Linked DNA regions of Homo sapiens: region 2 is linked to region 1. The links come from fine-mapping of genetic effects on gene expression. A gene starts in region 1. The other region holds a variant in brackets. All regions are shown on one strand. Distances are from middle to middle.

The links. PIP is the estimated chance that this variant, and not a neighbour inherited with it, causes the effect.
Region 2: its variant is the best candidate, but not a certain one, in a credible set for the expression of STX11 in whole blood (TOPMed, PIP 0.83).

What each region holds. Positions count from the first base shown.
Region 1 is chr6:144,148,526-144,153,906 of GRCh38, forward strand. STX11 (syntaxin 11) reads left to right here and starts at 1,992. Exons shown (of 2, transcript NM_003764.4): 1 at 1,992-2,178. RefSeq lists a silencer at 1,679-2,118.
Region 2 is chr6:144,184,619-144,189,999 of GRCh38, forward strand. It overlaps STX11 (syntaxin 11), which reads left to right. Exons shown (of 2, transcript NM_003764.4): 2 at 2,005-5,381. The coding sequence starts at 2,010. The coding sequence ends at 2,873. Among named protein-coding and RNA genes, the nearest start is that of TRL-TAA1-1, 29 kb to the right of the region's middle. RefSeq lists an enhancer at 1,855-2,355. The variant A/G (reference allele first, on the strand shown) is at 2,838.

The DNA of each region.
Region 1 (5,381 bases):
TAAATTCCATTTCAGATTTCCCTATGATTACCATCTTACATTACATTCCTCACAACTAATTAATCAACCTTGATTCTTATTACTAATGAAAGTCCATGCTTTATTTAGATTTCCTTAGTTTTTCCCCAAGTCCTTTTTCTGTCCCAGGATCCCATCCAGGATACCACATTACATTTAGTTTTCACGTCTCCTGAGTTTCTTCTAGGCTGCGGCAGTTTTTCAGACTTTCCTTATTTTATTTTATTTTTTGTAGAGACAGCATCTGGCTATGTCGGCCAGATCAGGCCTCGAACTCCTGGCCTCAAGCAATCCTCTCGCTTCAGCCTCTCAAAGTGTACGGATTACAGGCGTGAGCCACGTCTGGACTGTACTTTCCTTACTTTTGATAACCTGACAACTTTGAGGAATATTGGTCAGGTATTTTGTAGGATGTTCCACTACTGGAATTTGTTTGATATTTTTCTCATTATGAGACTGAGGTTATGGTTTTCCAGGAGGGAGACCACACATGTAATATGCCACATTCATCACATCATATTGACTACATGCCATCAATGAGTCACGATTGTTGACGTTGGCTTAGAACATCTGGCTGGGGTAGTGTCTGTCGGCTTTCTCCATTGTAAACCTACTGTTTTTCCCTTTCCACATTGTACTATTTTGGAGGAAGTCACTGTGCACAGCCTAGGGTACATGATCTACATAAATTATTTGGAATTATTCTGTATAGGAGATTTGTCTCCTCTCCGCCTTTTATTTATTTATTCAATTATTTATTTATATCAGTGTAGACTCATGGATTTTTTTACTTTGGCTTGTAATCCAATACTACCTTGTTTAGTTTACTTCGTTGCTCAAATGGTTCCATCTTTGGCAACTGGGAGCTTTCAGGTGGTTCCTGTGTCTAAACATTCTGCCATCAAGGCAGGATTCGTTCTTTAGTTTTATTTTTTTTCTTCTCATTCAATTGAGACAGCGTCTCATTCTGTCGCCCAGGCTGGAGTACAGTGGCGCGATCTCGGCTCACTGCATCCTTGACCTCTCAGCCTCAAGTGATCCTCCCACCTTAGCCTCCCGAGCAGCTGGGATCACAGCGTGCGCCACCACGCCCAGTTAATTTTTTTATTTTTTGTAGAGATAGGCTTTCACCACATCGCTCAGGCTGGTCTCAAACTCCTGGGCTCAAGAGATCCTCCCCCTTCGGCCTCCCAAAGTGTTAGGAATACGCGCGTGAGCCACCGCGCCCGGCCCGATTTTTCCTTTTTTGAGTATCACTTCCTTACTTTTCAGCCTCAGCCTTGTTTTTCAAGGTGCTTTACCACCACCTGGCACAATCCACACTTTCTATTTATCCCTCCCCGTTAAAGTGCCGGGACCTGGAGGGTGGGTCTTGGCAGTATTTTTGAGCGCGGTGGGCACACAAGGGGACGCTCAGTTGATATCCAGAGAATGATGAGCCCGGCGGGTGTTGAGGCCGACTGGAGAGAGGTTGGTCGGCAGGGTTCTGGGAAGGCGGTGCTCGGCCTCCGTGTGACCGCAGGCTCCTCGCCCGCGTCCTCGAGGGTCCCAGGGATGCAGGACCTGCCGCAGCTTCCGCAGCCACACCCACGCTCAGAGACGGCTTCCAGCGTCCTCGCCGCGGCAACGCACCGGACTGCAAATGTCACCAGCGCAGCGGGGATTCCCGGGGGAAGTCCAGCGCGCTCCCTGCCCTGGGGACCAGAGGACGAGCGGAGGAAGTGTCTTGGGCGGCAAACATCCCACTCCCCGCGCCGGTCCGCGCAGCCCGCGGGAACGCCCCTGGGCTTGCGGGAGGGGCTGGAGCGCGTCCCCGGCTCCGGGCGGTCCCGAGCGCATGGACTCTGGGTGGGGCGGGAACCCGCGCTCTGTGAGCCGGCTGCCGCCGCGCCCCAGCGCTGTCATCCCGGGGCGGGGCCTGGTCCCCAGCTGTGGTCGCTTCCTAAGCGGCGGGGGCTGAGCCGGCGGCGCCCAGATGCGGCCGCGGCGGCGCGGAGCTCGGGCGGCCGTGGAGGAACTCAGCCTCGGCCGCAGGAGGCGCCGGGAGCGGAGCCGCCGGGAGTCGCGCAACAGGTTTCCTTCTCCATCGCTGCGCCCACAGGGGACGCGCGCCCTGCCGGGAGAGGGGCTTCTCGGTTCGCACTCTCGCTCCCAGTCCAGGTTTGTTTTTCTCTTCCTGAGCCCCCATTTCTCTTCCTGACTATTTTCCCCGTGCGCGGAGAGATCGGGGAGGGCGGGTCGGGGCGGGGGCACTGTCTAGGCTCGGGACCCGCGGCTGTGCCTTAGGTGGGATTTTGGATCTGGCGCAGGTCCTCACGCCGCCTCTGGGCACCTTCGGAAACACAGCATTGGGTTTCTCATATAAAGCAGAATGATTTTTTAAAATTACTTTTAATTTCAGAGGCTGAGGGACTTAGGATTTAGTGCTTCGTAAGAATTATTTTAGGGATACCTGTTGGTAGGCTGCCTTTATAAAGTGTCCACCCAAGACTACTTTTATTTTAAATCGAAAGGCTGGAGTGTTTTTTTATTATCACCTCTTCACTTCCTAGTAGGGTGACTGTGTCAAAAACACCAGAATGGGTACTTCTTGACTTGAACTTGGCGGTGTCACTCAGTAGCCAGGAAAGACGGAGAAATTGATAGAGCCTTCGAGGAGTCCCTTCGAAGCCCACGTAAGACTTTGTTTTAGAAACATGGAGAGAAGTAGTGGCAATGCCTGCGAGAGCCACGCCGTCCTGAGAGGGAATTCTGCCTTTTTCTAGACTCCGCTGACACCAGCTGAGATCTGTATTACTTCCTGTGGTTCTCACGCACTTGTTTCAGCCGTTTCTCAGCAGAGGGAGGAGCTGTTATTTACAGGTATCCAAAAATGAGTCACAGGGCTGCTCTCTTAATTGTGAGACTTTGTTAATGAACTTTTGAAAAGCGAGGCTTGCTTTAAAATGAGACTCTAGATGTGAAATGCCTGCCCTGCCAACCTGGGGCAGTGGTATGGGAAGTGACGATTGAGTTTTCAGTTTCCTAAGGCGCCTGATGTTACAACATGCCAGTAAAGGTCACTGGGCTGATCTAAGATAACCATTGAAATCATGTGCTTTGCCACAGATGCCCAAGAGAAAATTAATTTCATTATTCAATGACCATTTTGCTGTCATTTTCACTGCATGGGAGAAAGGTATCATTTAATGTGGTGATTGTAAGTAACTCTCTAAAATCAAAATATTTCAGACAGTTTGTGTTTACTAAATTGGTGCTAAAACCACATGATGATTTTTGAAGCGGGTGGGTCCCAGCGGGAGCAGAGAAATTTAAAAGTTGAAGCTGACAAGTCCTATTGCGGTGGGTAACAGCCCTTAGGAAGGGACTGCACACTATCTCAACACGGTAGAGAAGGGGACACCATCTCTACTGGAGCTGAGTTGAGCTGAATTCAGCCTCAAACAACAGTTACCAGGTACCTTCTCTGTGCCAGCCTCTTCCCTGAACCTTGCTTGTACAACCATGAATAATAGGATCCTGCCGGCAAGGTACTAGGGTAAATCTATACCCAGAGTGAAGTTTCTGTGCCAATATAACTCAATATGCTGGGTCCCAGTGTATTTAAAGAGTAGACTCAGCAGATTATCACCCCTAGATAATTGCGGTCACGATTAGTTGATAGTGTGACTTTTAAGAAATAGTGTGACTAATTAATAGTTTATTTAAATATGCTGGAAAATTCAATATAATGAGATAGGTGCTAGGGTAAATCTATACCCAGAGAAAAGTTTCTGTCCCAATATGACTGATGTTTCTGAAGATCTGGGATTTGGAATGGACTGGGTCATGGCTGGAAGAGCAAGGAAACTTTTGAGTTTAGTCATTTACTTGTCTTTGTAGGCAGCCTATTCTTCATTTGATACATGATTTAAAAATGTATGAATTTGAAAGGTATGGTTTTTAAAGTGCTTGAATGAACCATGTTTCATGTTATTTAATAACCATGTAAAACGAAATTCAGCTGATTATCACCCCTGGACAATTGCAGTCACCTTTAGTTAACAGCATGACTTTTAGGAAATGGTGTGACTAATTAATAGGTTGTTTTGTTTTGTTTTGTTTTTTGAGACAGAGTCTCACTCTGTTGCCCCAGGCTGGAGTGTGGTGGTGCAATCTTGGCTCACTGCAACCTCCACCTCCTGCGTTTAAGCAATTCTTGTGCTTCAGCGTCCCAAGTAGCTGGGACTACAGACACCCACCACAACACCCGGCTAATTTTTGTATTTTTAGTAGGGACAAGGTTCGGCCCTGTTGGCCAGGCTGGTCTCGAACTGCTGACCTCAGGTGATCTGCTTGCCTTGGCCTCCCAAAGTGCTGGGATTGCAGATGTGAGCCACCATGCCCTGCCTAATAGTTTATACATTGGTAACACTATATTGAAGCGAGTTTATGATCATTGTTTTTGTAGTTCAAATCAATGTTTTTTATCACATTATAGCCGTGTGAGCCAAAATGAATAAATCTACCGTATCACAGTTTACTGTTGCAATTGAAATCTGCTGAGATGCTTTTGAACTGGATGCCCAAGTATCAAGGTTTCCAAGTTTCCCCAGTTTGCTAAGATATCCAACTGGTAAAGGCAACAATGCTAAATTTCAGACAACTTTACCTTAATTTCCAAACTTTATTCCTCCTTTGAGAGCCCTAAAGTTACTTTTTCTATGAGAAAGAAAGGGTCGAGTTTGTCATTCAGCATTGTACTCCCTGAACTTGGCCCAGGCTTGTCTCATGATAAGTGTTAGAAAGTGTTTATTGATGGAATAATGAACCTTCACGTAGGAGGATGAATTGTCAGGCAAGTGGAATTGTCTGCTGTAGGTGACCCAGCAGAAGGAACAGCACCCATAGAGAAGTGAAACAGCACTGGACGTTCAGGAAACTCCAGCCTGTTTAGTGACGGCACAGAGGGAGGCCTACGGAGACAGGAAGGGCCAGATCACAAAGGCCCCATGAGGGTTTAATAGTACTGAAGCCTTTGAACAAGTGAATGATATTGTCAGGTATGTGTTTAAAAAATAATAACAAAACTTGGAATTTTAAAAATCTTAGATTAGATGAGAGTGACATTGACCCTAGGAAGACACCGTGGAAACTGTTGTCATATTGCAGATGGGACATTGAAGAAGGCCTGAATCGGGCAGTGACAATGCAGATGGGAAAAGAGGGAAGGGGCTGGTAGAGGTTTAATAGGTGGAACCCTGTCGGGTGTGTGTAATGAGGAGGTAGGAGCAGTTGAGATGACTCCCATGTTTCTAATGAATGACTAGGATAAGAATATCCTACTCGGTGGAAGAATAGGTTTGGGCTAAAGGGTGGTGAGG
Region 2 (5,381 bases), 36 kb after region 1:
CCTGAGTGTTCACTTACTGATGACCTTGAGTAAATTCCTTGATCTCCCTATGCTCACACCAACTCTGATAATGGCAGTACCTACTCATAGAATCTGTATGAAGACTAAAGAGGGTATCACATGAAAGATGCCTAGAAAATATCAGGCATATATAACATACGTTTATGTTCTCTGTCATTTACATCTTCTCTGAATTGCTTCACTGTCTTTGGGTAAGTAGATTTTTTGGTAGCTTAGAAATATATATATTAAGTATCTTAACCTCTTGTCTGTCATATATTATAATTTCTCCCCAGTTGGTGGTTTGTCTTTCAATTTTGTTCAAAGTGAGGAAACAGTTGAATATCAAGAAATTCAGACCAGGTGAAGGCATAGTTTTGGTCCAGGGTGGATCTTTTTTCTGCCTGTCAACCATACTGCTAGGAGAATCACCTTCCCCATCCGTGAGAAGGTCTGGTATTGATTATAGCCACCAGATATCAGAAATGGCACTTTAAGCAGCTTACATTGTTACATTAAAAATCACCATCATAGAATAAAACTTCTGCTTAATTTATGTAAATAATGATCATGGTAGATGAAAGGCCGTGGTTAATATTTCACCATTTTCCATTTACCACCAAATCCAACTTGTCAGCATTCCATTAGTGGTGATATAAAATTAATTACTTCAACTTGAAAGAAGCTTTTAATTTGAGACCAAGAACCCTGATAGATTGCGTAACCATTAAGTGTTACTACTTTTCCCCTCTTTGCTGCAAATTGTGTAGTAGAAAAAGAATCTTTCTCATCATGAAGTCTTGTGTATAAACACAAGATATTCCCTATATTAGCATATATACATGCTACTAAAAATGAAAGTTTTTCACTTCACTGAAAAGCAATATGAACATAGAGACTATTACTTTGCCTTACTAAGCAGAGGAATTACCAGAACCATCCTTGTAAAAACATGAACATTCTGCTTGAGCTGCCAACTTGTTTCAAAAAGCTATTAAAAGTGGGCAAACATTGCTGCTACATGATGAATGAATGGGAGTGTGTTGTAGTATTGCTACTAGGCCACGTATGATTGGAATTTTCCACATAAAAGCATTTTAAAAAGCAGTGTTATTTACGATGCTTATCATTAGGGAATGATATTGAGAAGAGGAGTAAGGAAACCTCAACTTCTAAATTTTACACTTAGATTTCTGTATTTTGTTGTCATTTTACTTCAAGCATGTTTTACTTTTACAACATCTTCAAGAGAAAAAAATTTAAATCATGATTTGCATGGTAACTGTTTTAAGAGTTGTTAGTGTGTACAGGAGGGGATGCTTCCCAGTGCCGAAATAGACACAAAATAGGCAACATTTAGATGTTGGCCCCAAAGCCTTGTAGATTATCCTCAATTAAAAATACTTAAGTTTGCAAGTCTTTCTTCTTCTTTTTTCTTTTTTTTTTTTTCTGTGTCTGTTTTAATTTGCAATGATTGGAAAACATAAAGCAATGAAAAGAGATGGTTTCCCAATGCAATCTAAAATTTTCACACACCAGGGCCTGTTGTGGGGTGGGGGGAGGGGGGAGGGATAGCATTAGGAGATATACCTAATGTAAATGATGAGTTAATGGGTGCAGCACACCAACATGGCACAGGTATACATATGTAACAAACCTGCACGTTGTGCACATGTACCCTAGAACTTAAAGTATAATAAAATATATATAAATAAATAAATAAATAAATAAAATTTTAAATTGCTCATTGAGTTCTGCGCGGCTATGATATTGAACTGCAGGTGCCTATAGGCCTTAAAACACAACTGTTTCATGTTGTTCAGTCATCTTATTTCTTTCCTTGTAAGCAAAATGTCAGAACATTTAGCTCCTTTAGTGCACTTATTGCCCACACCGAGGAATACAAAATTGGGACTGCTGAGTAAAATGTTTAAGTTTCAATCCCTTGAAGGCAAATATTTGACTCTCAATAGAGAAATTTAACTTCATTATCTCTACTTGCAGGCAAAATGAAAGACCGGCTAGCAGAACTTCTGGACTTGTCCAAGCAATATGACCAGCAGTTCCCAGACGGGGACGATGAGTTTGACTCGCCCCACGAGGACATCGTGTTCGAGACGGACCACATCCTGGAGTCCCTGTACCGAGACATCCGGGACATTCAGGATGAAAACCAGCTGCTGGTGGCCGACGTGAAGCGGCTGGGAAAGCAGAACGCCCGCTTCCTCACGTCCATGCGGCGCCTCAGCAGCATCAAGCGCGACACCAACTCCATCGCCAAGGCCATCAAGGCCCGGGGCGAGGTCATCCACTGCAAGCTGCGCGCCATGAAGGAGCTGAGCGAGGCGGCTGAGGCCCAGCACGGCCCGCACTCGGCAGTGGCGCGCATTTCGCGGGCGCAGTACAACGCGCTCACCCTCACCTTCCAGCGCGCCATGCACGACTACAACCAGGCCGAGATGAAGCAGCGCGACAACTGCAAGATCCGCATCCAGCGCCAGCTGGAGATCATGGGCAAGGAAGTCTCGGGCGACCAGATCGAGGACATGTTCGAGCAGGGTAAGTGGGACGTGTTTTCCGAGAACTTGCTGGCCGACGTGAAGGGCGCGCGGGCCGCCCTCAACGAGATCGAGAGCCGCCACCGCGAACTGCTGCGCCTGGAGAGCCGCATCCGCGACGTACACGAGCTCTTCTTGCAGATGGCGGTGCTGGTGGAGAAGCAGGCCGACACCCTGAACGTCATCGAGCTCAACGTACAAAAGACGGTCGACTACACCGGCCAGGCCAAGGCGCAGGTGCGGAAGGCCGTGCAGTACGAGGAGAAGAACCCCTGCCGG[A/G]CCCTCTGCTGCTTCTGCTGTCCCTGCCTCAAGTAGCAGGCCGGCCCGGGCCGCCACCGCCCATCCCAGACCATGGAGCGCGCTGGGAAGGACGCACCAAAGCCGGGAGCTCTGCCCTGCAGGGAGTTGCCCCAACCCTTTCCGGAACTCAGTCTTTAGAAAAGAAACGCCAGGTTCAAGAATTGCAAACCAGCCTGTGCTTGGAAAGATGGTTAGTTGATACCGTCCGATGATTCTTCAGTAAAGATAGATTCCCACAAAGTTGTGCAATGTCATTATATGACACCTTGCACTCTTACCGTCTTGACAGAAGCCAAGTAAGGAACTGAAGTTGTATCTGACTGTAGGGTGAATGTCTGAGGCCTGCCTCCTAATAAAGACTCAAGGAGGAAGTCAATTGGGCATCTGCTAATAGAATGAACTCATGATGGAAACTTCAGTTCATTTACTTTGTCCTGAAAATTCCCTGGTTCTGTTCCATTTTGAGCGAAATTGGCCTTGGGAAAAACCACGTTCTTCCTTTCCGATTCTTCATCCGGTCTACGCTATGCAATTCCTCCCCAAATATAGATCTTATTTCTGCTCATTTCCCCTACTTATTAAAATCACACCAAACACTTACTATTTTCTTATCTCTTTCACTTTTTAAATATCTTTCACCAGGTTATATTTTGGTATTATTTTTCCAAACATTTTTAAGCACTGAATATCGAACAAGCACTCAAATTGAAGTATCAGTCATGTTTTGTGTATTTTTCGCTGATAAAAATTATTTAACATTTATATTTTTACTTGATTACATATGCACATGTATGTAAATGTAAAATACTAATATTCACTAATATATGTACATAATGATCAATTGGTTTAACTTCTTTTATGTAAGTATGGTATATAAATTTCAAGACGAACACTTTTCTGGCTCTTGGTATTGGTTTGCTTGTTTTGAGTTTGTTTCACTCCAGTTTGCCCCTTCCTAGTCCAGTTTGGGTCAAACTTCATGTTAAACAACTCTGCATTGGTTATGGCGGTAGACATATGGCGGTAGAAAATGTATACGGAGCTAGAGACAACTAACATTCTTGGAAATACTGCTTTTGTTTTACTGTGGACCATTCCTTCCATGCATTGAAATGGAGAAATTCAAAGTAAAAGAATTCTGTTTTTCAAGCAAGCTTAATAAACATTACATTATACACATATTTTTATACATTTCTGGCTTGACCATTTAGTTTACTTTCTCAATTATTGTTAAAATTTTTCTTTTTCCTTTTTTTTTTTTTTTTTTTGAGATGGAGTCTCACTGTGTTGCCCAGGCTGGAGTGCAGTGGCAGGATCTTGGCTCATTGCAACCTCTGTCTCCCAGGTTCGAGCGATTCTCCTGACTCAGCCTCCTGAGAAGTTGGGACTCTGGGCGCGTGCCACAATGTCTGGCTAATTTTTTATGTTTTTAGTAAAGACGGTGTTTCACCGTGTTAGCCAGGATGGTCTTGATCTCCTGACCTCGTGATCCGCCCGCCTCAGCCTCCCATAGTGCTGGGATTACAGGTGTGAGCCACCATGCCTGGCCTTTTTTCCCCCCTTTTGAGACAGGGTCTCCCTTTGTCACCCAGGCTGAAGTGCAGTGGCATAATCATGGCTTACTGCAGCCTTAAACTCCCAGGCTCAAGTGATCCTCCCACCTCAGCCTACAAATAGCTGAGACTACAGATATGTGCCACCATGCCCGGCTAATTTTTGTATTTTCTGTAGAGACAGGGTTTGCCATGTGGCCCAGGCTGGTCTCAAACTTGTGAGCTTGAGCAATCCGCCCACCTTGGCCTCCCAAAGTGCTGAGATTACAGGCCTGAGCCACTGACCCTGGCCAAATTTTTTTTCTACTAGCTACTGAGGCTGCCACATCTGGATGGAACTGAGTGGAGGGGGAAAAGAATGAAAAACTCAAAAGAATTCCCATGAGGGTGTCTTGCTTTCTCTCCTGAGTTACAATACTTTAGCAAAATCATGAGGCTTTAGAGATATGGTGTAGTCTGCAAACTTCTTAATGCCCTTACCCACATTTACCATGTTTCCTGGCCTTCCTCTGTGTCAACTCTTAGCTCTTCCTAATCATTATTTAATACATGAGTGAGTTTAGTAGTGATCATATTTCTCAGGTCCTTTAGAAGCTGGAATTTTAAAAGAATTAGAAGGAGGAGTATGTGAATTCTTTGGAGCTCACTGCCTGACTTGCTTATGACCAGGAAAATCTATCCCCTGTATCTAATTTTAATTTCATGGTTAAATTTGAGAATTGTGGAAACCAAGTTCCACAAGGCTATTCTCATATTTCTCCCAATTTCTTTTTCAGCCAACTCCAAGGATATGTATCACCTTTGACTTAATTTGCTTTCTCTAAGGGAAAGGGGAAAAAATGTTCACATAGCTCCACTGCAATGTTTTTTATAATAGAGGAGAGATATTGTAAATAGAGACTGCCAGCCAGTTTCCACAAAAAAACGAAGAGTTCATAAATTTGACATGTTTGAACCCATAAAGCATTTT